3 separate regions of the Homo sapiens genome follow, and all the other regions are linked to region 2. The links come from fine-mapping of genetic effects on gene expression. A gene starts in region 2. Each other region holds a variant in brackets. All regions are shown on one strand. Distances are between the middles of the regions. Region 1 holds the start of LOC105371064 (a long non-coding RNA gene). Region 2 holds the start of PPL (periplakin). Region 3 holds the start of LOC124903637 (a long non-coding RNA gene).

Region 1 (10,578 bases), 25 kb before region 2:
CAAAAGGAGGAAGTCCATTAATCATTGCCTAATTCGTGAAGGTGCCCGGTGGGAATGCAAGTTCTCTCAAAACACTGGCTGAGAGAGAAAGAGAACATCTAGCTGAGGGAGGCTAGTGTTCGAAAGTTCAAAGTCGGGCAGAACTGATCGATGGTGAGAGAGATCAGCATAGGGTTGACCCCTGAGGGATATCAACTAGGGAGATGGCCCGGGAGCTTTCTAGACAGTTACCCATCTTGCCACAGACAGTGGTTATCTGGGTACCTATTGATGCAAAAATTCACCCAGGTGAAGTCTGCGAATGTAGACACTTCTCTAGAGTTTATATAAGTTATACCTTGATAAAAAAGTTTTTTAAAGTCACAGGGGCCAGGTGCAGTGGCTCACGCCTATAATCCCAGCACTCTGCGAGGCCCAGGCGGGAGGATTGCTTGAGCTCAGGAGTTGGAGACCAGCCCGGGCAATATAGTGAGACCCTATCTCTAAAAAAAAAAAAAAAAAAAAAAAAATACAAAAATGAGCCAGGCATAGTAGCATGCGCCTGTAGTCCCAGCTACTTGGGAGGTTGAGGTGGGAGGATTGCTTGAGCCCAGGAGGTTGAGGCTTCAGTGAGTCGTGATTGCGCCACTGCACTCCAGCCTGGGTGACAGAGCAAGACCCTGTCTCAATAAAAAATAAAAATAAAAAATTATAGGGACTGATATATCTAATCTCACACACACACACACACACACACACACACACACACACACACACACACGGACAGATACATGATAAAGCCAATTCAGCAGACGTTCCTTGTAGGATCAGGTGGTGGGATATGGGTGTTCGCTGTACGGTTTTCTGCATGTTTAGCATTTGAATAAATGTGTGATGCAGTGTATGATTCTGTTTATGTGAAATATCCAGAATAAATAAATCCACAGAGAGAAAGCAGATTAGTTGCTGCCAGGGGGAAAGGGGAGGTGGGGAGTAACTGTTAAGGGTGTGGGGTTTGGCTCTGGGGTAAGGGAAATGTTTGGGAACTAGATCGAGGAGATGGTTGTGTAACATTGTGAATGTATGAAATGCCACTGACTTGTACACATTACATGGTTAATTTTATGTTATGTGAATCTCCCCTCAATTAAAAAAAATGGAAAATTCAACAGAACTGGGAAATGAAATAAATAGTAGTATCTTTAGCAAAAAGAACATAAGAAAAAGATTGTGTGATCCATGTAGTCTTCAAAGCCTAGCTTCTTTTTTCAAGTGGGTTCAGTTGAAGTTAAAAAAATAGGCCGGGTGCAGTGGCTCACACCTGTAATCCCAGCACTTTGGGAGGCCGAGGTGGGCAGATCACAAGGTCAGGAGTTTGAGACCAGCCTGGCCAATGTGATGAAACCCCATCTCTACTGAAAATAAATAAATAAATAAATTAGCTGGGCGTGGTGGTGCCTGCCTGTGGTCCCAGCTACTTGGGAGGCTGAGGCAGAAGAATCACTTGAACCCGGGAGGTGGAGGTTGCAGTGAGCCGAGATAGCACCACTGCACTCCAGCCTGGACAACAGAGTGAGAGACTGTCTCCAAAAAAAAAAAAAAAAAAAGAAAGAAAGAAAGAAAAAATTGTTCAGGCCAAGCACACAGTGGCTCATGCCTGTAAATCCCAGCACTTTGGGAAGCTGAGGCAGGAGGATGGCTTGAGGCCAGGAGTTCAAGACCAGCCTGGACAACATAGCAAGGACCTCTGTCTCTGCAAAAAAATAAAATAAAAATGGTTCAAAATTACCTATTTTGAGTCAATACTTCAGGGAAATAAAATGAGAAGGTTAAACCCTCTTCCTTCTTTCTCTCTCTCTCTCTCTCTCTCTCACACACATACACAAAGGTCAAACAGATATACACCAATATGTTAATAGTCAGTAGATACCTCTGGTGGTGGAATTCTACATGACTGACTTTATTGATTGATTGATTGATTGAGGCAGGGTGTCCCTCTGCTGCCCAGGCTGGAGTGCAGTGGTGTCATCTCTGCTCACTGCAGCCTCAACCTTCCGGGCTTAAGCGAGCCTCCCACCTCAGCCTCCCAAGGAGCTGGGATTACAGGCACACACACCACCACACCTGGCAAATTTTTCATATTTTTTGTAGAGACGAGGTTTCACCATGTTGCTCAGGCTTGTCTGAAACTCCTGGGCTCAGGTGATCTGCCTGCCTAGGCCTCCCAAAGTGCTGAGATTACAGGCGCGAGCCACCGCACCCGGCTCATGATTTTAATTCACTTTGTTATGCTTGTTTATCCATCGTGAAATGTGTGTGATGAACACATATTATTTTTGTTATGAGGAAAAAAGAGACACACCCCCAAAAGATGTTTTCCATTTAAGAAGGAAAGAAATCCACCACCACAGGGGGCCTCAGATGGCAGAGGATGTAACTGCAAATGACAAGGGGAGCTGATGGGAGGGAACAGGTGTGGGGTGGCCAGGCAGAGGCCAGGGAGGCAGGAGGTGGAGGCCCAGGGGGGCATGGAGGCGGGGGCCCCAGGCAGGAGGCCAGGGCAAGGCCCACTCCTGGGGCCCCTGCAGGGGATAGCTGGTGGCAGAGAACAGAGTCTCCACTTATCTGCCCCCTACACCCCCGTGGACTGTGCCCACCCCAGCCCACCTACCCGCTTGGGTCTCTTGGCTGCTGTGGACAGGCCTTCAGAGGGTGGGCAACTGGGCCATCAGGAGCAGCCAAGGGGGTTGGATACCTATGGCTGGGCCTGGGGACAGCAGCTTGGCCGGGTAGACCTTGACCTCCCTCCTGACCTCCCCACCCTCAGCCTCCCACTCCTCTGGTCCCACCTTTTTTTTTTTTTTTTTTTTTTGAGACAGTCTTACTCTGTTGCCCAGGCTGGAGCGCAGTGGCACGATCTTGGCTCACTGCAACCTCCGCCTCCCGGGTTCAAGCGATTCTCCTGCCTCAGCCTCCTGAGTAGCTGGGATTATAGGTGTGCACCACCACGCCCAGCTAATTGTTGTATTTTTAGTAGAGATGAGGTTTCACCACATTGGCCAGTCTGGTCTCAAACTCCCGACCTCAAGTGATCTACCCACCTCGGCCTCCCAAAGTACTGGGATTACGGCCGTGTGAGCCATTACGCACCTGGCCTGGTCCCACTTCTTAGTCGCCCCTGCATAGGGATGCCAGATGAAATACAGATCACCACTTACACTTGATTTTCAGATAAACAATAAATAATGTTTTAGCATAAGCCTTTCCCTAATAACACATGGGCTTTCCTGCTACTAAAACATGATTTGTGTTCTGAAATTCAAATGTAACTGGGCATCTCATATTTTATTTGCTAAATCTGGTAACTCCACCTGCAGGCCGATGCTGGCACCATCTCTGTCACTGACTCATCATCCCAGCCCCTTCTAAACCTCAGTTGCTCCAGGGTACAAAACAGGCATCAACCCAATCGCACCGGGCTGGCGCTGGTGGAAGGTTTAAAGAGAAGGTGACCATTCCAGCGGCTCGTGAGTCCCTCAGGGTACAGAGGCTTCATGCCGTTGAGTCCACTGGGCAGTTGTTATCCCCATGTTACAGAAAGGGAAACTGAGGCACAGATAGGGGAAAGTGATTTGCCCAGCTATTTTATCTCTCTTCTCCAAAAAAGGTGGAGAAAGACCTGCACCCTGAGTGCTGGCAGCAGTAGGATGAGCAGTGAGAATGATATTGACGATAATAGCCCTGTCCTATACCTGCATAATCTCATTTAATCTTTACAACCACCCCGCCAAATGGGAACCATCACTCCTGCCTGCTTAGAGAGAATCTCGTTCATGGGGAGGTGGGATGGCTCACTTGTCCAAGGTCACCCAGCAAGGACAAGGCTGGGCTGTTTCCATAGAGCCTGACCCCATGGCACTCCTCCAGGCAGGAGACGCTTTCCACAGGGCCCAGGAAGAGGGAGGAACTTAGTATCCGGGAGGTACTAGTATTAACGACAATGGCCAGGTTCCTCTCACAGAGCAGGGCTTCCTGACCTTGGCACCCCTGCCCTACAGTGCACGGTAGGGTGTTCAGCAGCATCCCTGTCTCCCCTCCCCAACTGGACGCCAGGAGGACCTTCCTTCCAAGCAGTGACAACCAAAATGTCTCTGCATGTTCCCTCGGGGCCACAATCACCCCTGGGTGAGAATCACCGATTCCAAACAGATCCTGGTCCTGAACAGGGCTGGCAGCACGGGGCACCCAGGTGGGAGTGGGAGTGGGGGCACTCACACTCTGCATCTTGGCCTCTGTGTCCACGATGTTCTTCTCCACCTGGTCGGCATTCTTCTGCAGCTGCTCGATCAGCTCCGAGAGCTCCTTGTTAGAGATGCTGCGGGCAGAAGCCGAGGGGAGATGGGCGGGGTGCCTGGTGGGTGGGGGCTATGTCCCCACCAGCACCCCATCCTCTGGCTGGCCCCGGCCCCACGCTCTGAGCAGGAGCTGCCCACAGAGCCTTTGAGGTAGTTGGGCTGTTCCCATAGGGCAACATCACTAAAGCCACAGAGACAAGGCAGCGCCTGGCAGGCGGTCAGCCTCCTTTTTTTTTTTTTTTTTTTTTTTGAGATGGAGTCTTGCTCTGTCACCCAGGCTAAAGTGCAGTGGCGTGATCTCAGCTTACTGCAACCTCCACTTCCTGGGTTCAAATGATTCTCATGCCTCAGCCTCCCCAGTAGCTGAGATTACAAGCATGCACCACCAAGCCTGGCTAATTTTTGTATTTTTAGTGGAGATGGGGTTCCACCATGTTGGCCAGGCTGGTCTTGAACTCCTGACCTCAAGTGATCCACCTATCTTGGCCTCCCAAAGTGCTGGGATTACAGGCGTGAGCCACCGCGCCCGCCCAGCCTCCACTTTGATCATTCTCTCTAATGCTTCTATTTTTTATTTTTATTCATTCATTCGTTCATTCATTCATTCATTCATTCATTTTATTGAGACGGAGTCTCACACTCTTGCCCAGGCTGGGGTGTAGCGGCACAGTCATGGCTCACTGCAGCCTCTATCTCCCAGGCTCAAGCAATCCTCCTAGCCCAGCCTCCCAAGTAGCTGGGACTACAGGCACATGCCACCACTCCTGCATAACTTTTACATTTCTTTTGGTAGAGAAGGGGTTTCACCATGTCACCCAGGCTGGTCTCGAACTCCTGAGCTCAAGCAATTCGTCCACCTTGGACTCCCAAAGTGCTGGGATTACAGATGTCAGCCACCAGGCCCCGACTACATATTTTTTTGTGAGAGATAGGGTCTCACTCTGTCACCCAGACTGGAGTGCAGTGGCGTGATCATAGTTCACTATAGCCTCGAACTCCTGAGCTCAAGCAATCCTCCTACCTCCACCTCCTGAGTAGCTGGGACCACTGGCACCACCAGCACACCCAGCTTCTAATGCTTCTATTTTGCCATGTTGGCAAAACGCACCATATTTGAAAAATTGGGAGATAACTCACATACCGTAAAATTCACCTGTTTAAAATACACAGTCACTGGCTTTTAGTACTACACATTCAGAAT[C/T]GTGCAACCATCACCACTATCTCATTCCAGACATTTTTATCACCCCAAAGCTCCACACCCACAAGCTGTCACTCCCTATTCCCCACCCGCTCCAGCCCCTGGCAACCAGGAATTTACTTTTTCTCTCTATGGATTTGCCTATTCTGGACATTTCATATAAATAGAATCACACAACACGTGGCCTTTTGCGTCTGCCTTCTCTCAGCATAATGTTTTCAAGCTTTGTGCATATTGCAGCATCTATTAGAACTTCATTCTTTTTATGGCTGAATAATATTCCATCACGTGGCTACTTCACATTTTGCTTATTCATTCAACAGCTGACAACCATCTGGGCCGTTTCCACCTTTGGGCCATCGTGAGAATCACGCTGCTATGAACGTTCGGGAACAAGCTTTTGTGTGAGCAGTCTTATTTTTAATTACCTGATATTTTTCTTTCAACCTACTCGTTTTATTTTAGAGTTAAATGTGTTTACAAAGGTAACTTCTCTCCCCATTTTAATCAGAAATCAGAAGCCCTCACCATGAGTGAATTAGCTGCCAAAATAAATTTCATGGGAACGCAGTGGCACTGGGTTCCGTGGTGACACTGGGCTGCCCGCTGTTACAAGTCAGGAGGTGTGACAGCCGTGGTGGCGTCAGGCCCAGCCTTTCTCCTGATCTTCTCAGAGCGCCTGAAAGAGACTTGAGGCCCGGTGTGGTGGCTCATACCTGTAATCCCAGCACTTTGGGAGGCCAAGGCGGGCGAATCACCTGAGATCAGGAGTTTGAGACCAGCCTGGCCAACATGGTGAAACCCCATCTCTACTAAAAATACAAAAATTAGCTAGGTGTGGTGGCATGCGCCTGTAGTCCCAGCTACTCGGGAGGCTGAGGCAGGAGAACTGCTTGAACCTGGGAGGTGGAGGTGGCAGTGAGCTGAGATTGCACCACTGCACTCCAGCCTGGGTAACAGAGCGAGACTCCATCTCGAAAAAAAAAAACAAGAAAAGAAAAAAAAGTCTTGAAAGCAGACTGGCCCTCTCCCTCACTGTCTCTGTGTCCCCTCCTGTCACATTTGTCTACTGCCCCCCGTCCCCCAGAACCACAGACAGACCACTCTGGAAAATGCTCTAATGGGAGTTAGTTAAGACTTTGGCCCTGGGGTTAGCTGTGGGTTCAGATCTTGGCTCCCATCAGCCACTTAGTGGCTGTGTGACTTGGCCCAGCTCCCTTGCCTATCTGTGCCTCTGTCTCCCAATCCGATGGACTAGAGTAACAGTCCTTTCCCGGGGCCAGGGTGGCAGGGGTTATGAATGGAAGTGAGGTTACACTACCAAAGGACTGTGCATAGAGCCGGGCACAGAATAAGTCTGAACAAAGGTTTGTGATTTTAGTTGTCAAGGAGCCTTAGAGATCACCCAGCTCTGCCTCTGTGGTTTTGAGACCGAGTCTCACTCTGTCACCCAGGCTGGAAGTGCAGTGGTATCATCTTGGCTCGCTGCAACCTCCACTTCTTGGGGTCAAGTGATTCGGCTGCCTCAGCCTTTTGAGTAGCTGGGATTACAGGTGTGAGCCACCATGCCCAGCCTCCTTCTGTTGTTTTCTTTAAACAAAGAAAGAAAGGGAAACCAACTTGGCCATTGTCACCCAGTTAGCCAGCGATGATAGCTCCCCTGTCTCCACTGAAGACCCACAGTGGGGCCTGAGTGGCTAGGCACGCAGAAGTTGCCTTCTACTCACACTCATTAAGCACCTGCTGTGTGCGGGCCCTGCACCTCACAAAGACAAGCCTCTCCCTCCCTGATCCACCCCACAGACCAGGAGGAAATCAGTATTTATAGAAACAGTCACGAGACTGAGGCAGGCCTGGAGGCTGGGGATGCCCAGGGGAACCTCTGGACTGGCTGGGTGGGGACAGCGGTGGTCACTGAAGGCTTCCTGGAGGAGGTGGTGTCGGCTGGGTGCTAAAGCAAAAGGAAGAATTTGGTGTTCCTGTGCAGAAGGCTCCAATGAGGACACGCCATAGAGAGAGGCAGGTCCTGGCACGTCCCGTGGGGTGGGCCAGGGCGGGGTTCTTGACCGTCAAGGCAGAGGGGACCACCAGCCCTTTCGAGTGATGCTCCCCAGATCAAGGTTCTGGGGCCTAGCATGAAAAATTCAGATTCCCGGCCACTAACCCAGACCTGCTGAACCCAGGTCTCCAGAGCTGGGCCCAGGAAGCTGTATTATTATTACTATTTTTGCAGGTTCCCCAGGGTACCTGGACACCTACCGGAGTCATGGACCAGCAATGCAGGTGCTGTTGATGTTGGGGGCATTGGGGGCAGAAATGGCAGCAGCCAACATGCTGGGGATCCATCCGTCTAGGTTCCACACCTTGCTTAAGGGCCAGCTTTGTGGCAGACCTGGATACACCGGAGCTGGGGGATCTTGAGGGAACAGGACCCAAGCCATACCTTCTGCAAGGTCAACTGGGGGCAGCCTGTCCCAAAGTGGGGTCCCAGGAACCCAACTCTTACAAGTCTTATTCTTCCTTGGTCAAGGCACTTAGGAAAACCCCATCCTTGATATGTTCATGAGCCAGCAAAGGCACTGACAAGTCCTGCAGTGGAGAAAGCCAGTGTTTGGCGGGGTGGCCAGGAAGGCTTAGCAGTGGGGGGCTTTGGATGGAGGATCTCGGTAAGAAGGGATAAGGTGGGCTTCTAGAACAGCCAGGTCAGGGGTCCACCCGACTCCTCCCTCATTCCCTAACCCCCCACTTCCTGGTTGGGCAGGCCACATGGAGAATGTGAGTTTCTGGGCCCCCACACTCCCACCCCAGTCACTGACCATCTGCCAGGCCAGCTGCACCTAGAGGCGGTGAGTCTCACCCCAAATATTTAACCCCTGACTCTGCAGTGCATCGTTAGGGTCTGTACTGTGGCTCAAGTGGGGGCCTTTGTCTCTCTTGGGCCCAGTCCCACCTCAGGCACAGGGCCAGCTCCCAAACCAGCCCTTTCATGGATTGTGGCAGATGCAAGAAAAGCCACCTTCTGGACTCTATCCTGGCTGGGCCTGTTGTTCCAGCCGAAGCCCCCCAGAGGACATGGGAGTTGTGGGGCAATGACCACTGCCTCAGGGACCTTGGACTCCTGATGGGACAAAGCTGTGAGCGGTAGCAGGAAGCTATGAGCAGACAGGCCAGGCCCAAGGCCCACTGGGCTGCTTGCTGCTTAGACAGCCTCAGGCAAGTGCCCTACCCTCGTACAGCCTCCGCTTCTCCATCTGTCCTCTGGCGATGACCACAAAGGCATCCTGGGCATTTGCCACTTGCTGTGGGCTTTGCCAGACCTCAGACATATTCACAGGCACCAGCTCAATATCATCCTTGCCCTAAGTCCCCGGGGAGGTTGGTGTGCCCCTTTGAAGAAGGGGATGAAGAAACCAAGACTCTGAGACATCAAAGCACTTGCTCAGGGTCACACAGCTGGTGAACCGCGATTCTCCCCGCAAGCAATCTCACTCCAGAGGCATGTGATCGACTGGGCTAGAAGTTACTCATGGGGATGCTAGGAAAATCACACCAATAACAATCTCCACCATCGTAATATGAGCTAATACTTACTCTCTACGTGCCAGGCTCCTCACTGTTTCTGACTCAATCTTCATGACAACCCTGAGAGCTGGGTGTTAGCATGGTAGGTAATTGTATTATTATCCCCGTTTATGGGTGTGGAAACTGAGGATCAGAGAGGTTAAATAACTCTCCCAAAGTCACCCAGCAATTAGATGGCAGAGCCAGGACTCTAGGCCCTTAACAATTCCATGTGACGATCTTACAGGGCTCCCAGCACACAGTAGGTACTTCACAGATTAATTTAAAATGCCAAGAGCCCAAAACCACACCGGGATGCCACTTTTCATCCACTACAATGGCTATAATAAAAAAGACAATAACAAGTGTTGGCAAAAATGTGGAGAAATTGGAACCCTCGTGCCTTGCTAGTGGGGATGCAAAATGGTGTACAGTTGTGGAAAACAGTCTAGAAATTCCACAAAAAGTTAAGCAGTCACCATAAGACCCAGCAAGTCCACCCCTACGTATTTTTTTTATTTTTATTACTTATTTATTTTTTTGAGACAGGGTCTCACCCTGTTGCCCAGGCTGGAGTGCACTGGCATGATCTCGGCTCACTCAGCCTCCGCTTCCCAGACTCAAATGATTCTCCTACCTCAGCCTCCCGAGTAGCTAGGATTACAGGTGTGTGCCACCACACCCGGCTAACTTTTGTACTTTTAGTAGAGACGGGGTTTTGCCATGTTGGCCAGGCTGGTCTCGAACTCCTGACCTCAGGTGATGCACTTGCCTTGGCCTCCCAAAGTGCTGGGATTACAGGTGTGAGCCATTGCGCCCAGCCTTATTATTTTTTGAGACAGGGTCTCACTCTGTTGCCCAGGCTGGACTGCAGTGGTGCAATCTTAGCTCACTGCAGCCTTGACCTCCCAGTCTCAAGCAATCTTTGTACCTCAGCCTCCGAGTAACTGCGACTACAGGCGCCTGGCACCGTGCCCAGCTAATTTTTTTTTTTTTTCAGAGAGGGAGGTTTCGCCATGTTGCCCCAGCTGGTCTTGAACCCCTGGGCTCAAGCAATCTATCTGCCTCGGCCTCCCAAAATATTAGGATTACAGGCGTGAGCCACTGCACCCAGCCCACCCCTACATATCTATCCAAGAGAAATGAAAACCTATGTCTGGGCTGGATGCGGTGACTCACGCCTGCAATCCCAGCACTTTGGGAGGCCGAGGCAGGTGGATCACCTGAGGTCAGGAGTTCGAGACCAGCCTGGCCAACATGGTGAAACCCCATCTCTACTAAAAGTACAAAAAAATTAGCTGGGCGTGGTGGTATGTGCCTGTAATCCCATCTATTCGGGAAGCTGAGACAAGAGAATCGCTTGAACCTGGGAGGCGGAGGTTGCAATGAGCTGAGATGGCGCCACTGCACTCCAGCCTGGGTGATGGAGCAAGACTCCATCTCAGAAAATAAAAAACAAAAAAACAAAAACAAAAAAACAAAAAA
Region 2 (10,578 bases):
TAGGGTATTGCTTAAAGGGTGTGGACGGAGCTGAGTCTCTCCCCCAAAATACCCTTTCCCAACATGATCCGCCCGACAGTGCCTGAAATGCTACCATTAGCAGCTGTTCCTCCAGGTAAGCTCAGCTCTGTCCTGAATCGAATTTATCCAGTCTCATTCCTTCTTCCAAGAGAACTGGGCAAGGGATGGAGGGGCAAAGCTAGAGAGAAGAGAGGTAGAGGGGGTTGCTGGGGGTAGAGGCAGTGAGCACAAACACCAATGACTCTACCATTTGGCCTGGAGCAGTCCCCAGGCACAGTTGCTGCCAGATCCAGGTACGAGTGGGGAGGCCTCATTTGCTTCCCCAGGCCCCCCTGGACTTCCAGCATCAGCCATTTGTGAGCTGTGAGCTCAAGGTGAATGTGAGCCCTCTGTGAAACAGGACACTTCCACCTGCATGGCAGGCCCGCTGTCAGAATGAGATGTAACATCCATGGCCTTGCTGGGCTCACAGTATGTGCCTGAGAAATGGCGGGGCGGCTCTCTCTAAGCTGTTACCCACATGGGTCCCCTCCCATATCGATCAGGCGTTCCTACCAACACTGATCGATGGGTGCATGTGCGTGTCTGCTTGAGTCAGCTCCCTGGTCAGCTCTGGGCTTGGCTCAGTCATGAATCTTTTTTTTTTTTTTTTGAGACGGAGTCTCGCTCTGTCTCCCAGGCTGGAGTGCAGTGGTGTGATCTCGGCTCACTGCAATCTCTGCCTCCCAGGTTCAAGTGATTCTCCTGCCTCAGCCTCCCCAGTATCTGGCTGGGATTACAGGTTTCCGCCACCACACCCAGCTAATTTTTAATATTTATTTTTGTAGAGATGGGATTTCACCATGTTGGCCAGGCTGGTCTTGAACTCCTGACCTCAAGTGATCCGTCCGCCTTACCCTCTCAGAGTGCTGGGATTACAGGCGTGAGCTACCGCGCCCAGCCCGTCATGACTCTTAATAGCAGTGTGTGCTTCCTAGTATTGGCTGCTATGATTTGCCGGGCACTCGCTCTGAACCAGGTCATGGGCTGGACCCATCATGTGCATCCCCTCATTTGATCTACCCAGCAGCCTCACCAACTGGGGGTTGCTGTTGTCACCCCACCTCATAGATGAAGAAACTGAGGCTCGGAGACATTAAGTGACTTGCCCAAGATCAAACAGCTTAAGAGACCCAGAGCTGCGGCCTGAACTCATGCCCAGCTAGCATCAAACACTGTGTTCTTGCTTTTTTTTTTTTCTTTTTGAGACAGAGTCTCACTCTTTTACCCAGGCTGGAGTGCAGTAGCACAATCTCAGCTCACTGCAACCTCTGCCTCCCAGGTTCAAGGGATTCTCCTGCTTCAGCCTCCTGAGTAGCTGGGACTACAGGCACCCACCCCCATGCCCAGCTAATAAAACACTGTGTTCTTAACCACTAAGAGGCTCAGGGTACCCCAGGTGCCTCCCAGTAGAGCATGCTTCCCTTTTGCCAGCTCTCCCCTCAAAGCCTGGGGTCCTGCCTCCCATGCAGGAGCGCTCCATCAGGGCGGCCCCAGTGTTGCAAGACCCGTCTAGGCAAGGCCAGGCTGCTGGGTGTTTACTGGGACCCAGGTCTGGGTGGAGGGGCAAGATTAATCCCATTCAACAAATTCAGAAGCGCTGGGGCTCAGGGATGCTATGTTTCTTTTCAAGCAGAGGCAGAATTGAGCCTGACTGCAGAGCTGGGTCTTGGCCACTCCATCCCACCCCGTGACAGGTCAGATGCCTCCTCTGTGAAGTCCTCCCTCACCTCCCAGCATCTGTGCTCTGACTGTGACAACTCTCACTTGAGGCCTGTCACAAAGTATGTGAGTGGCCAGGGTGGAGACCTCATCTGTCCGGCTCTATGCTCCATTGCTCCTGCCTGGCCCCATCAGTCCGACGCTCATGTAACCATACATGTACTGAAGCTTAACTCCATCTTATCTCTGTGATGTGACTGCCAGCGACTCAAGTGCAGGGAGGTTGTCCACGTCTCCTCCACGACCACGTGCTAAAACCCAGCAACAGTGCCTATGGAATTGTGCAGTGCACAGCCTGTCCACCATGATATCAAGTTTAACCCTGGGTACACCACAGCTAGCTTGCCCGCATTTGCTTAATAACTGTAATCGTCACAGATGCTATTACCTGCGGCCGCTTATCATTCACAACCTTTCCCCTGCATTATTTCATTTAATCCTGAGCCAACATCGCCAGGCAGGCACCGTGCTTATTCCCATCCCACAGGTGAGAAAACAGGCTCAGAGAAGCCAAGCAGCTCCTCTGAGGTCGCACAGCCAGGAGGGTGGCAGCGGGTCTCCTCCAGGGCCTCTCTACTAGGCTGGAGGCTGTCCTCGGTCACCTGCACCATCTGGCCTGACTCTGTCATTAGCTCAGGTGTGAACATCAACTCCCACACCTGTCATTAGGAACCCGGGCAACGGGAGCAACGGGGTTCACACCCTGTCCCGGCCCTCCCCAGCTTCAGCTGCTAAAAGGCAGACAAACTGGAAGGGGTGGCTTTCTCGGTGGGGTGTTCCGTTCACTAATCCACACTTTGTAGTCCAAAGGCCTGACTACCTTGGGTATGAAAGTCACCACTTGGGGCTCCTGGGTCCCCTGGGCTCGGAAAGGGCTGCTACCCTCATCCGGGCACCTCCTGTGTGCTACAGCACTGCTCCTCCCAGCAGCCCTATGCATGAGACACTCAGTATTACCACCCGTGCTGTGCAGAAAGGGAAAACAAGGCTTCGAGAGGCTCCAGGGTGGAGATGCCAGGATCAACAGTGAGGCATTCTGCTCTCAGTGCTGGAGCTCCTACTGCCCCCCATGCTGAATCTCACCAGCAATTTTGTCCTCCCCCAGACAATGGAGCGGGCCCCTGGAAAACTCAGAGTGAAGGAATAACTTGGGGATCCACTCCCTGTGACCAGCGACCACAGCCTAGAGCCGCAAGTCTGTCCCCTCCACCCCCCCACCAAGACACTTGCTATGGGGCTGGCTGGGCATCAGGCAATGTTCAAGAGATGCGTTTGAGAGGATGGGGTACAGGGCTACCCCCACCCCACAATCCAGTCTGCGAACTAGTCCCCACTAAGGGGAGGGGGCAGAGGGATGCACTGGGCTTGGAGACCACCCGGGGAGGCATCTGACATCTGCTCAGGGCTGTGGCTGTGCTCATTCTGTGCTGGGGTGGCAAGGCTCAAAGGAATGGTCTTGCACCCCAGGCTGGGGAGAGAATCAGGAGGGCTTCCTGGAGAAAGAGACGTCTAAATGGAGATCTGGGACCAATGGCTATCAGCCTAGGACAGACCGTGGCTGCCTTGGGCCAGATATACAGAGAGTGGCAGGACCCCAAATCTTTGCCACCCCAGACCCTCCCAGTCCCTGCAGCTATAAAGGATGGGATGCCTTTCATCCTCATGCTTCTGGGAAAGCCCGCACCCCTCCCAGCTTGTCTGGGTTCATTAGAACCTTTTGTTAGGTCCAAGCTGGGGCCTTCAGGATGGAGAGCTGCACGAAGGAGGGAGGCTGGGAGGAGGCAGAGGGCGGGGCGAGGCCTGGCCCCACCACTGGTATGTGGGTGTCTGCATGTGTGAAGGACTGGATGGGTCTAGTCTCTGGGGTGGAGAGGACAGAACGGTTCTCCACGGCTGGCACGGAGCATCCAATTGTGCAATGCCCCAGGGAACAGTGCAGGGACTGGACGGGCCTCTGGTTGGGTCTGAGTGCCAGCTGGACGCAGCCATGGAGGAGGGGTGTGCAGGCCCTGCCCAGTCTCTGGGGTTGTGAAAGATAGGGGAGGGGTGGGGAAATCTCTAAAGGCGGGTAATGCCTCTGAGCTTGAAAGAGCCCAAACGGAGATACGGGTGGGTGGGATCACAGGGCAGGGGGGTTTCTGAAAGGGCTGGAAGGCCCCGGAATGGAGTGTCGCACTCCAGCGTGCTAGGGCCCCGCCGCCTGCACCTGTCCGACTGGTCGGCCTAGGCCGGACTGCAGGGGTTGAGTGGGAGCCCTGGGCCCAGAGGCCTCTCCTTGCCTAGGGAAGAAGTGAGGAGCTGCTTGAGGGCACAGTGGGGGCTCCCAGTGAGAGCAGCTTGGGGGCAGAACTCCCAGACAGGAGAGCCATGTAATGTGCGGGCCCCTCACCTGCCTGAAGCCTCTTGTCCGAGAAGCTGGCAAAATGGTCCTTGCTAGCCCAGAGCCCCCACTCTATTTTCCGAAGTGGGGATATAAGGCAGGGGCTGGATTCCCACCCCCTCCGTCAATCTCAGCATCTCCACCAGGCTCCCCTAAACCGGTTATTAAGTGAACACATTAGGCTTATCAAAAGGGACGTGGGCTGCTTCTCCCTGCAAACACATCAAGACATGCCATTCCCCTCCCAGGCCGCCCTGGGAACCCGCGGCTCAGAGACGCCGCCAGTTTCGGGGCTGGGGTGGGGGCAGGGAGCCACACCCCTGCGAAACCGAGCTTCGAAGAGGAGGCCCCGAAGCCGCCCAACCTCCGCTCAGAACCCAGAGGGTGGGGAGGTAAGGGGGTGCCTCCCCCTGTGCCCCTCGACCCGACCCCACACCCCCCAGGGCCTCCGGGCGCGGCTCTGGCGCGCAGGGTGGCAGGTGCCGGGAAGTGCAGCGGCGGGTGGCCCGCCCCCTCCGGACACCCATCCCTCGCCTCCCCGACGCCAGGAACACTTGCGCGGTCTCAGAGGCGCTGGAGAGCGCCCCCCGACGCCAGCTCAGTTTCCCTGCCTCAGGGCGCCCCCTGGACGGAGCTTCCTGGGTCGCCCGCAGCGACCCCGCCTTGAGTGCCCGGTCCTCCAAAAACTCCGCCCCCTCATCCAGGTGACTATTCCCGGTCCTGTGCGACCCTCTGCGCAAGAGCGACCCTGGGACACGGGGGTGCCCTGTACCCCCAGCTCAGCTGCCCGTGCCCTAGGCCCTCAAGGCAATGCTCCCTGGGCTCCCGGAGTCCCCTGTGTTATGCTCCCCCTCGGGGACCCCAGCCAGTCCCTTCCCACCTGGCGGCGCTTCCCAGCTTCAGGGTGGCCTCGGTCCCGCGTTCCCGAGAGTCCCGCACTCCGGGTTCAGTTCCCGGTTCCTGGACCCCCGTACCCCCCATTCCTACACTGCCCGGGAGGTCTTCCAGGTCCTGTGCGCCCACAGGGGCAAGAGCGTCCCGGAGCGGAGCTGTGGGCGCCTCCTCACCTCCGGGTCTGCACAGTGGGGCTGTATTTGCCTTTGTTTCTCTTCCTGAAGAGCGAGTTCATGGTGGCGCTCGGGGTGCGGGCGGCGGCGGCTGGCGGGCCGGGCGCGCACCGAGGGGCGGGCGGGAGCGCAGGTGAGCGAGCGGCGGCGCGGGGAGCCCGGACTGCGGCGCGGCAGTGGCTCCGGGTCCCTACTCGCTGGGGGCGGGGCGCCCGCCGGCCACTGGCTCTGCGGGCCGCTCCCCGAGAAGGTGGTGCTTACCTTCCCGAGGAGGGGCCACCGCGCGGGCGGGGCTTGGACGCGGGGGTGGGGACACTGGGTCTTGGCCGGACGCCGCCCACCCCCAGCCGGGGGACTCCGGAGGCCGGGCAGGCACTGGGGCGCAAAGGCCGCCGGGGCGAGCGCTCGCAGCCCCACCCTCCTCGGGCCCGGCGCGCCTCTGGCCGAGGCCTTCACCTGGTTCTGCGCTACCGCGGAACTCGGCGCTCCTGGTGCTTTGGCGGACACCCAGCTGGGCCCCGCAAGACAGGTGCGGCAGAGACCCGCACGGATTCATGTGCCCTAGTAGCTAGCGAATTGCACTCAGATGGTGGCAATTGAGGGAAGGGGGCTGAACTGCCGAGGGCGCCGGCCTGAGTTCAAGCCCTGCCACCCCCAGGTTGGCTGACACTCCTGGGCAAGGTGTTTTACTGCTCCCAGCCACAGTTTACTTCTTTGTCAAACGGTGATAACCACCACCCCATCCGAAAGGCCTGTGGGGATGTCCCTGCAGGTAATGCACGCAAAGCGCTGAGCGCAGTGCCCTGGCCTGAATCTGCTCTCCGCTTGCCATCTCGGGTGGACAAAAACTCCTTTGAAACTTCAATAACTCCAGGCCCTGGCACTAGAAGAGCGCTTCATAGCTGGTCATAAAAGCTGCTCGATTGCGGCTCAGAACAACGACGTTGCACAATTCTGCCAGCATGTCCTGGCCCAGACTGTGTGCCAGTGGAGGAGGCTGCCCTTAGACAGAAACCTAATCTGACCTGAAGCCCGGATGGCACACACCACCACACCTGGCTAATTTTTAAAAATTTTTGTAGAGGCAGAGTTTCACCATGTTGCCCAGGCTGGTCTTGAACTCCTGTGCTCAAGTGATCTGCCGGCCTACAGCCTCCCAAAGTGCTGGGATTACAGATATTAGCCACCGTGCCCAGCCAACCTTATTCTTAATGGGGCTTCTATGGGTGGGCTTAACCCATTTATGCCTGAGGTTGCAATTTTTTGAATTGATAAATCATACCTTGGCAGTGACCTTGAGCAGTAGGAGATAACTCCCACAGGCGTCACGTTCCAATAATGGACCACTAGGCGTAAATAGAGGTGTGATTCCTCCTAAAGTTGTGCCTGCCTGCCTGCCTTCCTTCTTTCCTTCCTCTCTCTTTCCTTTCTTGCTTTCTTGCTTTCTTTCTTCTTTCTTCTTTGAGACTCAGTTGCCCAGGCTGGAGTGCATTGGCACAATCATAGCTCACTGCAGCCTTGACTTTTGGGGCTCAAGCAATCCTCCCACCTCAGCTTCCCGAGTAGCTGGATCCACAGGTGTCCACCACCACGCCTGGCTAATTTTTAAAACCTTTATATTTATATATGTTTTTTGTAGAGATGGGGTCTCGCTGTGTTGCCCAAGCTGGTCTTGAATTCCTGGGCTCAAGCAGTCCTCCCACCTTGGCCTCCCAAAGTGCTGGGATTTCAGGTGTGAGCCACTGCACCCAGCCCTAAAGTTGCTTTCAAAATGTGTGTGTCCAAATGTGCATTTTTCTGGGGGAGGATGTATTGCTCAGTGGAGTCATTTACTCATTCAACACATGTTTCCCATCACTCTCACAGCCTCAGTGTGCCTGGCTCTGCTTGTTGTACACGGATGAGAAAAGGGAAAAGAACAACACAAAAGGGGCTTTCTCTTTGGGAGCTTTCAGGTCCCGGGGCAGGGGACACATATTAAAAATGTTAACTTGGATGGGCGCGGTGGCTCACTCCTGTAATCCCAGTACTTTGAGAGGTCGAGGCAGGGGGATCACCTGAGGTCAGGAGTTCAAGACCAGCCTGACCAACATGGTGAAACCCCGTCTCTCCTAAAAATAAAAAATTAGCTGGGCGTGGTGGCGCCTGCCTGTAGTCCCAGCTACTTGGGAAGCTGAGGCAGGAGAATCTCTTGAAACTGGGAAGGGGAGGTTGCAGTGAGCTCATATCACGCCACTGCACTCCAGCCTGGGAGGTCACAGTGAGCTGAGATCGTGCCACTGCACTCCAGCCTGGGCGACAGAGTGAGACTTCGTCAAAAAACAAAAACAAAAACAAAAACACGTTAACTTTTCTTTTTCTTTCTTTTTTTTTGGAGATAGGGTCTTGCTGTGTTGCTCCGGCTGGAGTGCAGTGGCGTGATCATGGCTCACTGCAGCCTTCCTTGACCTCCCAGACGGAAGCCGTTGTCTCTTCTCAGCCTCCCTCTCAAGTAGCTGGGACCACAGGTGTGCACCACCATGCCTGGCTAATTTTTTTTAAATTAATTAATTATTATTTTTTTTTTGACAGTCTGGCTCTTGTCGCCCAGGCTGGAGTGCAATGACACACTCTCGGCTCACTGCAACCTCTGCCTCCTGGATTCAAGCAACTCTCCTGCTGCCACCACGCCCTGCTAATTTTTGTATTTTTAGTAGAGACAGAGTTTTGCCATGTTGGCCAAGCTGGTCTTGAACTCCTGACCTTGTGATCTGCCTGCCTCAGCCTCCCAAAGTGCTGGGATTACAGCTGTGAGCCACTGTGCCTGGCCTTTTTAAATTTTTTTAATTAATTAATTAATTATTTAATTTTTTTTGAGACAGAGTCTTGCTCTGTCGCCCAGGATGGAGTGCAGTGGCATGATCTCGGCTCACTGCAAGCTCCGCTTCCTGGGTTCATGCCATTATCCTGCCTCAGCCTCCCAAGTAGCTGGGACTACAGGCGCCCGCCACAACGCCTGGCTAATTTTTTGTATTTTTTAGGAGAGACGGGGTTTCACCATGTTAGCCAGGATGGTCTTGATCTCCTGAACTTGTGATCCACCCACCTCGGCCTCCCAAAGTGCTAGGATTACAGGCGTGAGCCACCACGCCCGGCCTTTAATTTATTTTTTTTAGAAGGAGTCTCACTCTACCACCGGGCTGGAGTGCAGTGGTGCAATCTCGGCTCACTGCAACCTCCGACTCCCTGGTTCAAGGGATTCTCCTGCCTCAGCCTCCCGAGTAGCTGAGATCACAGGCACGTGCCACCATGGCCAACTAAATTTTGTATTTTTAGTAGAGACGGCTCAAACTCTTGACCTCAGATGACCTGCCTGCCTTGGTCTCCCAAAGTTCTGGGATTACAGGTGTGAGTCACTGCACCCGGCCGCCTGGCTAATTTTTAAAATTCTTTGTAGAGATGGGCTCTTACTATGTTGCCCAGGGTGGTCTTGAACTCCTACAGGCTCAAGCAATCCACCTGCGTCAGCCTCCCAAAGTGCTGGGATTGCAGGCGTCAGTCCCTGCGCCGGCCAAATTGTGAACTCCTTGAAGGGGTCTGGGGACATATGGGGGAGAAAGACCCTGGGAGAGGCGGTGGTTCTAACATTGTTGCACCTTAGAATCTCTACAGGAGTTTGTAAAAGGCATATTCTGGGGCCCTGGGACCCTTGACATCCTGATTGGGGGGGTCTGAAGAGGGAGGGGCCTAAGAATCTGAAATCTGGACAAGCTTCCCTGGGTGGTCTGAGGCCTCAGTGTGTGCAGCCTCCCAGCTGCTCAGGCAGACAGCCCTGAACAGACCTCCCCAGCAAACCCAGTCCTTCCCCAACTCGGCTCTGCCTGGCTCAGTTTCGGGTGCCGCCCCCAGGTGGGCATTTCTCATTGGCAGGTAAGGGCATGACAATGCCCTCCCTCGTCCAAAAGTGACTTCCTTGCCTAGATCTCAGGGCCCCGAAGGGATGCTTCCTCCAGCCAGCTGATATTGGGAGCAGGTGTTAGAGAGGAGCTGGGGTTTCAGAACACAGGTGTGCGGGGAGTCACCTTGCACCCGCAGAAGCCTGAACTCAACATGGAGCTGGCTCAGCACACAGACCCCTTCCCCATACCCCAAGAGGGGTTCCCAGGGAACTTGTGCGTCCTTGCTGTCGCCCCCTGGTCTGCCTATGCCTGGACACCCTCTCCTTTCTCGTTCCCCATACCTTTCCCCACAGGTGGGCTCTTACTCCGGGCTCAGCATGCCTTGAGGATGGTCACTGCAGCAGTGTTGCTGACCTTGTACTAAGTGTGCATCCTGGGATGCTTTTGGCAACACAGTTGCTAATGGAGAAGCTCTGTAAAGAAACTGCTGCCTATTTGGAGGGGGATGGTCCGGTAACCAGGGCTGCCTACACCAGGAAGACCCTGCAGCTGGAAAAGGGGCAGATGTGGAGACCATATGTAGACTAACATGGAGTGGAGTGCCAGATGCAAAGTGCAAAAGAAAGAGGGAAAGACAGAGTGTGTGGTGTGTAACATGCTTGTCTATGCACAAAAAACTTCTGGAAGGATACATGAGAAACCGTTGCTGAATCTCCCCAAAAAGGACAAGAAAGAAGTTTGAATTTCTTTTCTTTTTGAGATGGAGTTTCACTCTCGTTGCTCAGGCTGGAGTGCAGTGGCGCGATCTTGGCTCACTGCAACCTTCGCCTCCCAGCCATTCTCCTACCTCAGCCCCCCAAGTAGCTGGGATTACAGGTGTGTGCCACCACGCCCAGCTAATTTTGTATTTTTAGTAGAGATGGGGTTTCACCATGTTGGTCAGGCTGGTTTTGAACTCCTGACCTCAAGTGATCCACCGCCTTGGCCTCCCAAAGTGTGGGGATTACAGGCGTGAGCCACTGCGCCTGGCCATTTTTTTTTTTTTTTTTTTTGAGATGGATGGAGTCTTGCTCTGTCACCCAGGCTAGAGTGCAGTGGCGCGAACTCGCCTCACTGCAACCTCTACCTCCTGGAGTCAAGTGATTCTCCTGCCTCTGCCTCCCAAGTAGCTGGGACCGCAGGTGCATGAAACCACACCCGGCTAATTTTTGTATTTTTTATAGAGACGTGGTTTCGCCATGTTGGTCAGGCTGCTCTCTAACTCCTGACCTCAAGCAATCTGCCCGCCTTGGCTTCCCAAAGTGCTGGGATTACAGGCGTGAGCCACCACGCCCGGCCCAGATCTCGGTTTGAATCCCCGCTCAGTCCCTTTCAGTTGTGTGAATACGGGCAAATCATTTTGCCTCTCTGAGCCTCAGTTTTCCTCATCTGGGAAGTGGGCGCAAACCTAGCATCAACTTCACAGGGTGAA
Region 3 (10,578 bases), 41 kb before region 2:
ACTGACTGTAGGAGGGTGGGCAAGGCCACAGGTAGGAAGGACCGGAGCCTTGCTCTGTACATCCCAAACCTGGGTCACTTCTGCCATCTTCTGTTTTTTAACAATGAACAAAGCCCTGAAAAGCTAACTTCTAAAAACCCTGCAGCAGGCAGCTCGTGCCCTGCGCGAGAACAGCCTGCCACTGTCTGGTCATGAGGCTGTGGCAAAAGCAAGTCGTGAGATGGGAGTGTGAATAAGGGGCCTCAGGTCACAGACTTGAATGTTTCCTGTGCTCAGGCAGTGTGGGAAGGGGGCCCGTGGCAACTGCGAGGTAAGCAGGCCGAGAAGGCAGCTGCTCCTCTGCCCACTGACTTGCCCTCTGAGCTGCAGCCCAGGATGCCAGCTCTGCTCAGCAAGAGATACTGGGAACATGGATTGTTATGTGCTTTATGCTTTTTTTTTTTTTTTTTTTTTTTTAAGAGATAGGGTCTTGCAACGTTGTCCAGGCGGCTGGACTTAAACTCCAAGGCTCAAGCAATCCTGCCCCAGCCTCCTGAATGGCTGGTGTTACAGGCATGTGCCACTACACTGGCTATTGCAGATATTTGATCTTAAAATGCTGGCACCCGAAATCCCGTAAGTCACACAGATCCCGTGAATAGCTTGGATTTGTGCTGTGGGCCTCCATTTGCAGTTCCCAATTTGGGCATTCCAAACCTGGGGAGACTGGATGCTGGTGTCCTCATCTATCCAGACGGGCGGGTGGATGTGCCAGATGCTCTCACCTGCTCAGAGAAGGACTCCCAGGACTTGGGCCCTAGACTCACCGCCAGCTCCTGCCCCTTGCTGTCCAGGACACGGCTGCTCTCAGGCACTGTGTCATCCTGATTCAGATGGTTCTCGTGTGTGGCCAGCAACTCCCAGCTCTGCTGCAGGCTCTTCTCCAGGCGGTTGGCCACATCAACCCTGAGAGCACCAATCAGGCGTCGGGGGATGCCCACCTGGCCCCCTGACCCCACCCCAACCTCCATGCTGCCTGTCTGCCACCCACTTCTCCTGGGCCAAGTCCAGCAGCTGCAGGAGGTGCTCGTATTTCCGGTTGGTGTCCTCCACCCGGGTCCTCAGCAGGGGTGTGGTGCCACTGCCTGGGAGGGCCTGGATGAAGGCTTCGCCCTCAGCCGTGCTCCGCGTCTTCTCAGGTTCAATCCGCAGTAGCTCGTTGGTGATGTTCTGTGGGAACCAGGGCCCCTCAGTTTTGGACACAGCCAGGCAGCCCCTTCCCCTGAGGATGTGCCCAGGGTGAGCACAGATTCCCACATCAGGCACAGTGGAAGCAGCTGGAGAGGCCTGGCACATTCTGGGGCTCTGACCCGGCATCTGGACCCCAGCCTGAGGGCTGTATTTTTCACGAGCATCCCAGGGAACCGCTGAGGTGGAATGGACTAGTGACACCAGAAGCACCCAGGCAGCTGCCGGGCCTGTGCTGTCCTCAGCACTGCACGCGGACGCTTCTGTTTAATCTTTGCGGCAACCCCGGGAGGTGAGTACTACGACTCCACCCAGTCACGGGTGGGGGTGTGACGACTCCCAGCAGCTTAGGAAGGGACTTGTGGGGTCAGGCTACACCCGAGACCGGCATCCTCTCGCCCTGACTTGGCTCTCACTCTGAGGCCCCATCAGGGGCTATGGCACTTCTCCAATCCCAGATCCTCTTCTGTAAAATTGGAGTGCTACTCACTGCCTCAGAGGGCTGCCTTGAGGATGTGGGAGACTTTGTATAGGAAAGGAGGTGGGGGGAGGTGGCCCCTCCACGTCCCCCCTGGCATCAGCTCACCCTGTCCTCGCCACTGCCCTGTGAGCAGGGCCAACCCATCCTACTGAAGACACTGAGGCCTGGAGTTTATAAATACAAACGCTAACGTGTTTGCAGTCAAGCCAGCCGGTGACCCAGTCCTGCGGAATTCCACAGCCCATGTGCCATGCCAGGCGTCAGATCGACAAGCCGTGCAGGAACAATGCAAGTCCTGCCAGCTCTTTCTCCTGGGGAGGTAATGACAGCAGCCCTGCCACCTCCATGACTTGGGACCCTTTTACATGCAGCAGGCTGTCCCTGACAGACAGCTGCAGTGAATATCCCAAGACTCCATGGGGAAAAGACCTCAAATAGGGGCCCCAGGGGGCCAGTGCAGGGCTCCCCCGGCCCCACCTGTGCTCCTGACCCGCAGGTACCTTGAGGTCCTTGGCCCGCTCGGCACTGTCCTGCACAGCCCGGCCTTGCTCCAGTGGTGGCCGCAGGATCCCTGTGATGGCCTTCTCCTGCCGGTCCAGGTCGCTGGCCACCTTGTCCAAGCCAGCCAGCAGCTGCCGCCCCTGTAGGTCAGAGGCATCTGTGGAGGGAGGGAGGACACAGGCAGGTGTGACAACGGGCCAGGGGTGTGAGGCCCAGGGATGGACCTAGGCAGCCAGCCCCCCGCCGTCTCATCCACAGCACAGACCCTGGTCCAGCCCCTCCTCCCCGGTACCCCCAGAGCCTCAGGCGAGTGGCCCTGGCACCCACCTCCGGGATTCTCGGTCTTCAGCACCTCATACCGCTGCTGCAGCGTGCGTTTGCTCCCAGCTGCCTTCTGCCGCACGCTCCGGTACTGGCTGCCCAGGCTGTGAGGACAGAAATGAGCTGGGAACCTGGGCAGCCCACCACCCCCTGCACCCACAGAGGCGGGACTGCGGACTCTGGCTGGGCAGACACCCCAGAGGAGCCTGACAGCTCCTTAGATGCGGACAGCAAGTGCTCACTGTGGCACTGGCCTTTCTGTGCTCCTGGGCTCAGAGCTCTTCTCCCTCCTTCCCTCCTCTTTCGTAGGAAGTCTCACTACCTAAAATTGTCTGTCCAATAATCACCACCAAGATGTTACTTCTGAGGGAGCATACACAGTAGGTGCTCAATAAATACTTAATAAATGAAGGCATTCCTTGAATGATCCACTCATTCAGCAAGGAGTTCCTGGGCACCTACTTTGTACCAGGTACTTAACTAGGCCCTGGAGAGAGGAAATTCAAGGAGCCCAGGCCCAATGAGACTGACGCATACGCTAGTCACTTAATAAAAAGCGGTGCGTGCAGTGGAAGAAGGTGCCTGGGAGCAAAGAGGAGGCAGCCCTTATCCCAGCTGAGTCCTCCAGCCAAGGGGCTGGGGTCTGCAAGTACAGGGAGCAGTGCGTGCGGGAGTCAGGGGCCCTTAGAAACTGCTTAGAAACTCGTGAGGGGGCCAGGACGAAGCCCAGAGCTAGACATTCATGTTTAGCAAGTCAGCTGGCCCACAATCTGCCCCTCTCCTGCATGAACTTCCAAGGGGGTGCAGATGGAGAGTGTCAGCGACCCCGCGCTCCCCACAGGCTGAGTCCAAATCCCCGGGGCTATGAATGGGGCCTGAGAAGCCCTGGGGGTGGGACTGGTCCATGCAGACTCCCGCCTTTGCCCTTGTACCTGTCAGCCAGAGCCAGGGCCTCAGGGTCTGTGGGGGGGATCACAAAACACACGGCCGGAGCAATCAGCTTGTTCCCAGCGCTGTCCATGAGCTCCCAGCTCTCCCCGTTGTTCTTCTGCAGGGTGTAGCTGTAGCCCCGCGAGATCAGGCCCTGGCGGGGGCAGGCTGGACAGTCAGGATCCCGGCAGGGCCTGAGGGCCTGGGAGCCCGGTTGCCATCTCAGCCCCCGACTCTTGGACCTGGGGAGCCCCGGCTCATCACTTGGACCCTCCCCGTAGAGTGGGGAGGGGCATGCAGGAGAAGCACATGTGTTGAGGCTGCCGGCCCAGCAACCCACCTCCATTTCCCTTTGGGGAACCTTCCCTCCCAATTCCCAGTCCCTGTGGTCTCTCCTTCTCCATTCCCAAGCTCCAGATGGACATGTGACTTGGACCTGGCCAATGACTGGCATTCGCCAGCCACAGTCATTGGTATAGGGTGGACCCTGGCATTCCCTGGCCACAGTGATTGGTGTAGGATGGACACGTGACTCACAGTGAGCCAATGAGAACCTGGCCTGGGACTTCTGAGGAGGGACTGGGGTTGCTAAGCTGGTGGAACACAAGGCCAGGGCAGCCGAGGTGGGGGCGGCATAGGGGTGCCAGTTGGCCTGCACCAGGGGAAGGGTTGGCAGAGTGACACCAACCACGGAGACAGGCACAGGCTCCTGAGAACGGCGCCTGAGGCCCGGGATCCAACCATGTTACCCCAAAAACTTTGTAGTGATGTGAACAGAGGAGCTGGCCCCACGCACCTGCTCCCCCTCAAAGTCACAGAGTGCCTCCACGGGGATGGGCTTGAGCGGAGTCTCCCGGCGGTACTTGAGGGGCACCACCTGCTGGCCTCGCTTCTGCAGCCCCTGCACCACGTCCTCATACTTGTCCAGCACCTTCTCCTGGTCCTGGAGAGAACGGGGTCAGGGGCCCAGGTGAGACCAACAGCCTTCCCCCTGGTGGGAGGACGCAGAGCAGGGGCTGGATTCAGCAGGTGGGGTGCTGTGGAGGGGCCTGTACAGGGCTGAGGGCAGGCATGGTGTAGAGGGGTCCCCCGCCCCCCGGGCCAGCAGGGGTCCTGGGCCATCGCTCACATCCAGCTCCCGCAGCAGCAGCTCAATCTGGTACCGGTCCTTGAAGTCAGGGCCATACTTCTGGTTCAGGTCCGAGTCCACCTTGCGCAGCAGCTCCTGAGCGTCCTTCACGTCTTCGTGAAACTAGGGGAGAAGGTGGCTCTGTTACAGCCAGGAAACCACTAGAAGCACCTGGGCTTCTGTCGGAGGCTTCAAGCTCATCCCTCAGGCGGGGCTGGGCCTCCGGTTCACCTGGAGTCCAGCATGGGACCCTGTGCTGAGCCTGAGGCTCCTCTGCGTGGAGACAGCCCCACCCTCCCTGAGCTGGCTCCTTAGGGGCCTCACTGGGAAAAGCCAGGTCCCTTCCCACCCATCCATGAGATGCCACCTCTGTGACATGTTTTCTTGGAT[G/A]TATCAGTAAGTCTTGAGGTGTCTTTGATTCAGTTCCTCTCTCTGTACTAGGAACATCCAGACTTAATACTATAGCTTCTTTCTAGGTTTTGATAATAGCCTCCCCTTTTTGTTCTCGAAAATTCTCTTGCCCATTCTTCAGTCTATCAACTCTTGGTTCACTGTCAGCTATCCCCTGGGCTGAGCACCTGGGCTGCAGCCATAAACAGGACCTGAAGCCCCCACTGTGCGGCTCAGACAGGGAATGAGGAGTGACACGGCGTCGCCCACATCCAGCTTTCCCCAGACACCTCAATCCTAAGAATTACCCGCAGCTTCTTAAGAACTCTCATTCCTCTGGAAACAGACAAGTGTCCAGCCACAGATGAGTGGATAAACACAGTGGTCTAGCCATACAATAGGATATGATTCAGCCATAAAAAGGGGTGAAGCACTGAAAATGCTACAACACGGATGAACCCGGAAAACATGATGCTCAGTGAGAGAAGCCAGACACAAAAGGGCAGAGATTGCATGATCCCACTGATTCTTCATATTCGTTCTAGGTGTGACACTTCTGGAACAGGCAAGTCCATAGAGACAGCAAGAAGACCAAAGGTGACCTGGGGCTGGGGGAGTGGGAATGGAAAACTTACTGCCTAATGAGTACGGGGTTGTTTTTTTTTTTTTTTTTTGAGGCGGAGACTCACTCTGTCGCCCAGGCTGGAGTGCAATGGCGCGATCTCAGCTCACTGCAACCTCTGCCTCCTGGGTTCAAGCAGTTCTCCTGCCTCAGCCTCCCATCTGGGACTACAGATATGGGCCACCACACCTGGCTAACTTTTGTATTTTAGTAGAGATGGGGTTTCATCATGTTGGCCAGGCTGGTCTTGAACTCCTGACCTCAGGTGATCCAGTCGCCTCGGCTTCCCAGAGTGCTGGAATTACAGACATGAGCTACCGTGCCCAGCCAGGGTATAGGGTTTCTGTTTGGGGTGATGGAAAGTTTTGCAAGTAGATGGTGGTGATGGTTGCATAACATTGCGAATGCAATGAATGCCACTGAATTGTACACTTAAAAATGCAAACTGGCCGGGTGTGGTGGCTCACACCTGTAATCCCAACACTTTAGGAGGCCGAGGCGGGAGGATCACCTGAGGTCAGGAGTTCGAGACCAGCCTGACCAACATGGCGAAACCCCATCTTTACTGAAAATACAAAAATTAGCTGGGTGTGGTGGTGGGCACTTGTAATCCCAGCTGTTCAGGAGGCTGAGGCAGGAGAATCACTTGAACCCAGGAGGTGGAGGTTGTAGTGAGCCGAGATGGCACGACTGCACTCCAGCCTGGGTGACAGGGCAAGACTCTCTCAAAAAAAAAAAAAAAAAAAAAAAAGGCAAATTTTGTTTTATGTATCTGCATGTATATTATAGATTTTACCAAAATTAAAACCCTACACACTCACCCTGGGCCCCATGTGACCTGGGGAATCAGACTCTGGCCCTGGTCCCCAGGGAAGTTGGACAGGGGCCGGCAAGCTTGGGACATGTCTGCACACGCCATCAGAAGCATGGGTGCTGGGGGCCTGGGATGGCTGCCCCGCAAGGCTCCTGGACCAAGGAGCACGAGGCCACACATGAGCCAGGTAGGCACTGAGCGCTCTCAGAGAGTAGCACCCCCGGTGCTGGGGGGACTCCCAGGAAAGGTAAGTACCTGGTGGTAGTCCTCCATGTACTTGAGGTGGCTCTCCTCGCAGATGAGCAGGTTCAGGTACTCCTTCCAGTCTGCGTGCACAGCCTCCATGTGCGCCTGCCAGGAAGAGAAGGGGCCGGTCACCACTGGGCAGGTACTGCAGACACCAAGGGAGGGACTGCTGGGATATTGGGCTGGGGCATGGCGGGGGAGGGAGGCATCTGGCATCTGTCTGGGTGTGGCTACCACAGGGGTAGCCAGCTTCTGCTCAGGAGTGGGAGGAGGAGAGAGGGGTCACGTCAAGGAGCCAAACAGGGATGCCACATACGGATGCCCAGGCTGTGCAGTGCACAAAGGGCAAGTGGGGGCTGTGGTGCCTTCGGCAAATCTGTACAAAGGCACTGTCATGGACCGAACAGTGTCCCACCAAATCCATGACCCTGGCCAGGCATGGTGGCTCACACCTGTAATCGCAGCACTTTGGGAGGCCGAGGCGGGTGGATCACCTGAGGTCAGGAGTTTGAGACTAGCCTGGCCCACATGATGAGACCCTGTCTCTACTAAAAATACAAAAATTAGCTGGGCATGATGGTGTGCGCCTGTAGTCCCAGCTACTTGGGAGGCTGAGGCAGGAGAATTGCTTGAACCCGGGAGGTGGAGGTTGCAGTGAGCCAAGATTACACCATCGCACTCCAGCCTGGGCAACAACAGCGAAACTCCATCTCAGGCGGGGTTGGTGGCATTGTGGGGGTTGGGAAGAATGCGACCTTATTTGGGAATAAGATCTTTGCAGATGTCATTAGTTAAGGATCCTGAAATTAGGGTGAGCCCTAAATCCACTGACTGATATCCTTATAAGAAGAGAGGATACAGAGAGACATGGGGAGAGAAGGCCATGTGAAGACGGAGGAAGGGACTGGAATGATGCAGCCACAAGCCAAGGGCTGTTGGCAACCCCCAGAAGCCGGAAGAGCAAGGAAGGCACATGTCCTGGAGCTTCCAGAGGGAATGAGGCCCTAAGACACCTTGATTTCAGACTTACAGCCCACAGACCTCTGAGAGAATGAATTTCTGTTGTTTAAAGCCACTAAGTTTGTTTTAACTTGTTGCAGCAACTCTAGGAAACTAATACAGACCCCACAGGGGCTTCAGAAGTCCAGGGGCTGAGGGCAGAAGTGTCAACGGATCAGGATAAATGGAGGAGGCAGAGTCAGACACAGCAAGAAAGAGACAGACAGACACAAGATGCAGCTTGCAGGACCCCCAGCTCCGGGGTCTGCCCGAGCTCCAGGCGGCCCACAGGCAGCGGCCAACCAGAAGCCACCCTGGGGGAGGTGTCTGGTCTCGGGGTGCATGAACCTCAATGGAGTTCCTCCCGGGGTGCTCGGCCGCCAGCAGCTGGTCGCCCTCGCTGTGCAGTTTGTTGATTCTCTCCTCTTTGGCCTCCAGGTTCCGGTTGATGAAATTCTGCAGTGGGGGGCAGTGGAGGGGCCTCAGTGCCCAGCCTGGCGGTCCCGTGCTCCTTCCAGGGCTGCCTCCTCCCTGATGCCCCAGGCCCCCAGAACCCACCTCATACTGGCGCCGGCGGCTGGGGTAGTCGAGGTTGCGGTCACTCCAGTCGTACTGCATGCGGCCCTTGGCCTGCTGGTCCAGCCAGTACAGCTCATTGGTGCAGCGCTGCATGTAGTCCTGCAGCGAACTCAGGTGCTGCTGCCGGGCCTGTGATGCTGCCTGAAGGGGCCGGGGCAAGGAAAGGGCTGCGTCCTCAGCCCGCTGCCACTGCTCGCTTCCTTCCCTACCTCCTGCAGGGCCCAGCTATGGCTGGCCTGAGGACAAGCCCAGCTATGGGTGGCCTGAGGACAAGCCCAGCTTAGCCACGTCCAGGCCAGTCCCCCTTAGACAAGTCACCTGAACCCCTGAAACTCATTCATTCATTCATTCATTCATTCAGTAAATGTTTACTGAGCATCTACTACATGCTGGACATGGCTCCAGACACTGGGGATACAGCAAACGAAACACACAAAACCCTTACGGAACTGACATTTTTGTGAAGGCTTAGTTCGCCCATCTGTAAATGGGGAAGATGACAGTCCTGACCTCACAGCGTACAGAGACTGGCATATAGTTGGTGCTCAACAAATATCAGTAACTATAGCTTCTACTTTTATCTGTATCATGATCGTCTTATAGAGGGCTGGAAGGAAAGCACCACTGTACGTCTGAGAAGCGGGTGTGCAAGGGAAAGGAGGGATGTTTGCATTTTGGTACGTGGGGCCCTCCACGCCTGATGAACTTCTGCAACATTGACTCATTTCATCCTCAAAGCGACCCTATGAGACAGGAACATGTAGGAGCTCCATTTCTCAGATGAGGAAACTGAGGCTCCCGGAGGCTAAGTAACTCGCTCAAGGTGTCACCACTAACACTAAGGAGCAGAGGAAGCATGGCTCCTTATAGCGACACAATGCTGCCTCTGTATTCTCTGTCTGAAACATTGGCAACAAGGAAGCGTTTGCATAACACTTATGCAATTTTTAAAAGAATGCATTCTTTAAAGGTTTGGGAAGGAAAATGGAAAGCTTTTGTATAGAAAGCAAGTGGCATCATACTTGGCACACAGCAGATAATAAAGAAATGAGCAGGACAGGCTGTACCCCTGGGGCCTGTTAGGGTTTTCCCTGAACAACCAGGGCAGACCTTGCAGCCGCTCAGGAAAAGGCTGGGGCACCTCTCTTCCCGCCTCAACCCCTCTCCTGATTGAAACGTTTACTGCACGCCTTTTTTTTTTTTTTTTTTTTTTAAAGGCAGGGTTTTGCTCTGTTTCCCAGGCTGGAGTGGAGTGGCACGATCACAGCTCATTGCAGCCTCCACCTCCTGGGCTCAAGCGATCCTCCCACTTCAGCCTCCCAAGTAGCTGGGACCACAGGCATGCCACCAAGCCCAGCTAATTTTTAAATGTTTTGTAGAGCTGGAGTCTCACTATGTTGCCCAGGTTGGTCTCAAACTCGTGGGCTCAAGTGATCCTCCTGCCTCTGCCTCCCAAAGTGCTAGGCGTGAGCCACCATGCCCAGCTGCCTATGTCATTTTTAAAACAATACATCCTTGTCCCCCCGACTCCAAGCTTCCCATCCTCTCCTCTCCCCATGAGGCCTTTCCCCCAGGGAGCTCCTCACCAGCAGTTTCTGGTACTTGGCCCGGAGTTCGCTGTTCTGCTCCTGAGGACAGAGCCGAGGGCATGGGTCAGGGCCAGGAAGCAGGCGCGGCCCCCTCCATCCCTGGGTCCCCACCACACCAGCACACGCCCCACCTTGTCCCCGTCCTTGGCCAGGTGGGGCCCGATGGCCTTGACCTCATTGTGGAAGATGTTATGCTCCTCCACTTGGTGGTCCACCAGCGGCAGGTCAGTCCCAAAGCTCTGGTTGTTCAGCTTGTCCTGGCCAGGAGGGCAGAGAAGCAATAAGGAGAGGGTGGGCTGAGGGCTGGGGACGTGTGGCCACCCCAGGAGCCTCGGGGGTGGGCATGATGGTGCTCTCTTTTTCACGGGGCCCTGCAGAGCCACAAGGAGATGCTGGCCACACCTTCAACCCTGAGGTTCTGTTTGCTGAGCACTGACCTATATCATCTTTCATCTCACAGAGCCTCAGGGGTCCACATGGTTACTGTCCCATCTCTCAGATGAGGACACAGAGGCTGAGGCTGAATGAGGGCCAGTCACCTGCCCAGGGTCACGCCAGTAACATTGGGAAAGCTGGCCAGGCATGGTGACTGATGCCTGTCATCCAGGCACTTTGGGAGGCCAATGGGGTCGGATCGCTTGAGCCCAGGAGTTTGAGACCAGCCTGGCCAATGTAGCAAAGCCCCATCTCTACAAAAATACAAAAAATTAGCCAGGTGTGGTGGCATGCACCTGTAATCCCAGCTACTTG

What was found. PIP is the estimated chance that this variant, and not a neighbour inherited with it, causes the effect.
Region 1: its variant is fine-mapped to the expression of PPL in lung (TOPMed, PIP above 0.99).
Region 3: its variant is fine-mapped to the expression of PPL in testis (GTEx, PIP 0.97).

Annotation. Positions count from the first base shown.
Region 1 is chr16:4,906,596-4,917,173 of GRCh38, forward strand. PPL (periplakin) reads right to left here. Exons shown (of 22, transcript NM_002705.5): 2 at 4,255-4,354. It overlaps LOC124903637 (a long non-coding RNA gene), which reads left to right. Exons shown (of 3, transcript XR_007064965.1): 2 at 5,856-5,936; 3 at 7,766-7,853. LOC105371064 (a long non-coding RNA gene) reads left to right here and starts at 8,468. Exons shown (of 4, transcript XR_933028.3): 1 at 8,468-9,196. The variant C/T (reference allele first, on the strand shown) is at 5,536.
Region 2 is chr16:4,931,755-4,942,332 of GRCh38, forward strand. PPL (periplakin) reads right to left here and starts at 5,394. Exons shown (of 22, transcript NM_002705.5): 1 at 5,230-5,394. The coding sequence starts at 5,291. RefSeq lists a silencer at 5,337-5,736.
Region 3 is chr16:4,891,005-4,901,582 of GRCh38, forward strand. It overlaps PPL (periplakin), which reads right to left. Exons shown (of 22, transcript NM_002705.5): 5 at 9,960-10,085; 6 at 9,826-9,867; 7 at 8,219-8,380; 8 at 8,009-8,116; 9 at 6,671-6,766; 10 at 4,590-4,712; 11 at 4,257-4,403; 12 at 3,463-3,614; 13 at 2,537-2,634; 14 at 2,209-2,366; 15 at 1,031-1,209; 16 at 807-945. LOC124903637 (a long non-coding RNA gene) reads left to right here and starts at 4,712. Exons shown (of 3, transcript XR_007064965.1): 1 at 4,712-5,576. RefSeq lists an enhancer at 4,254-5,099. The variant G/A (reference allele first, on the strand shown) is at 4,980.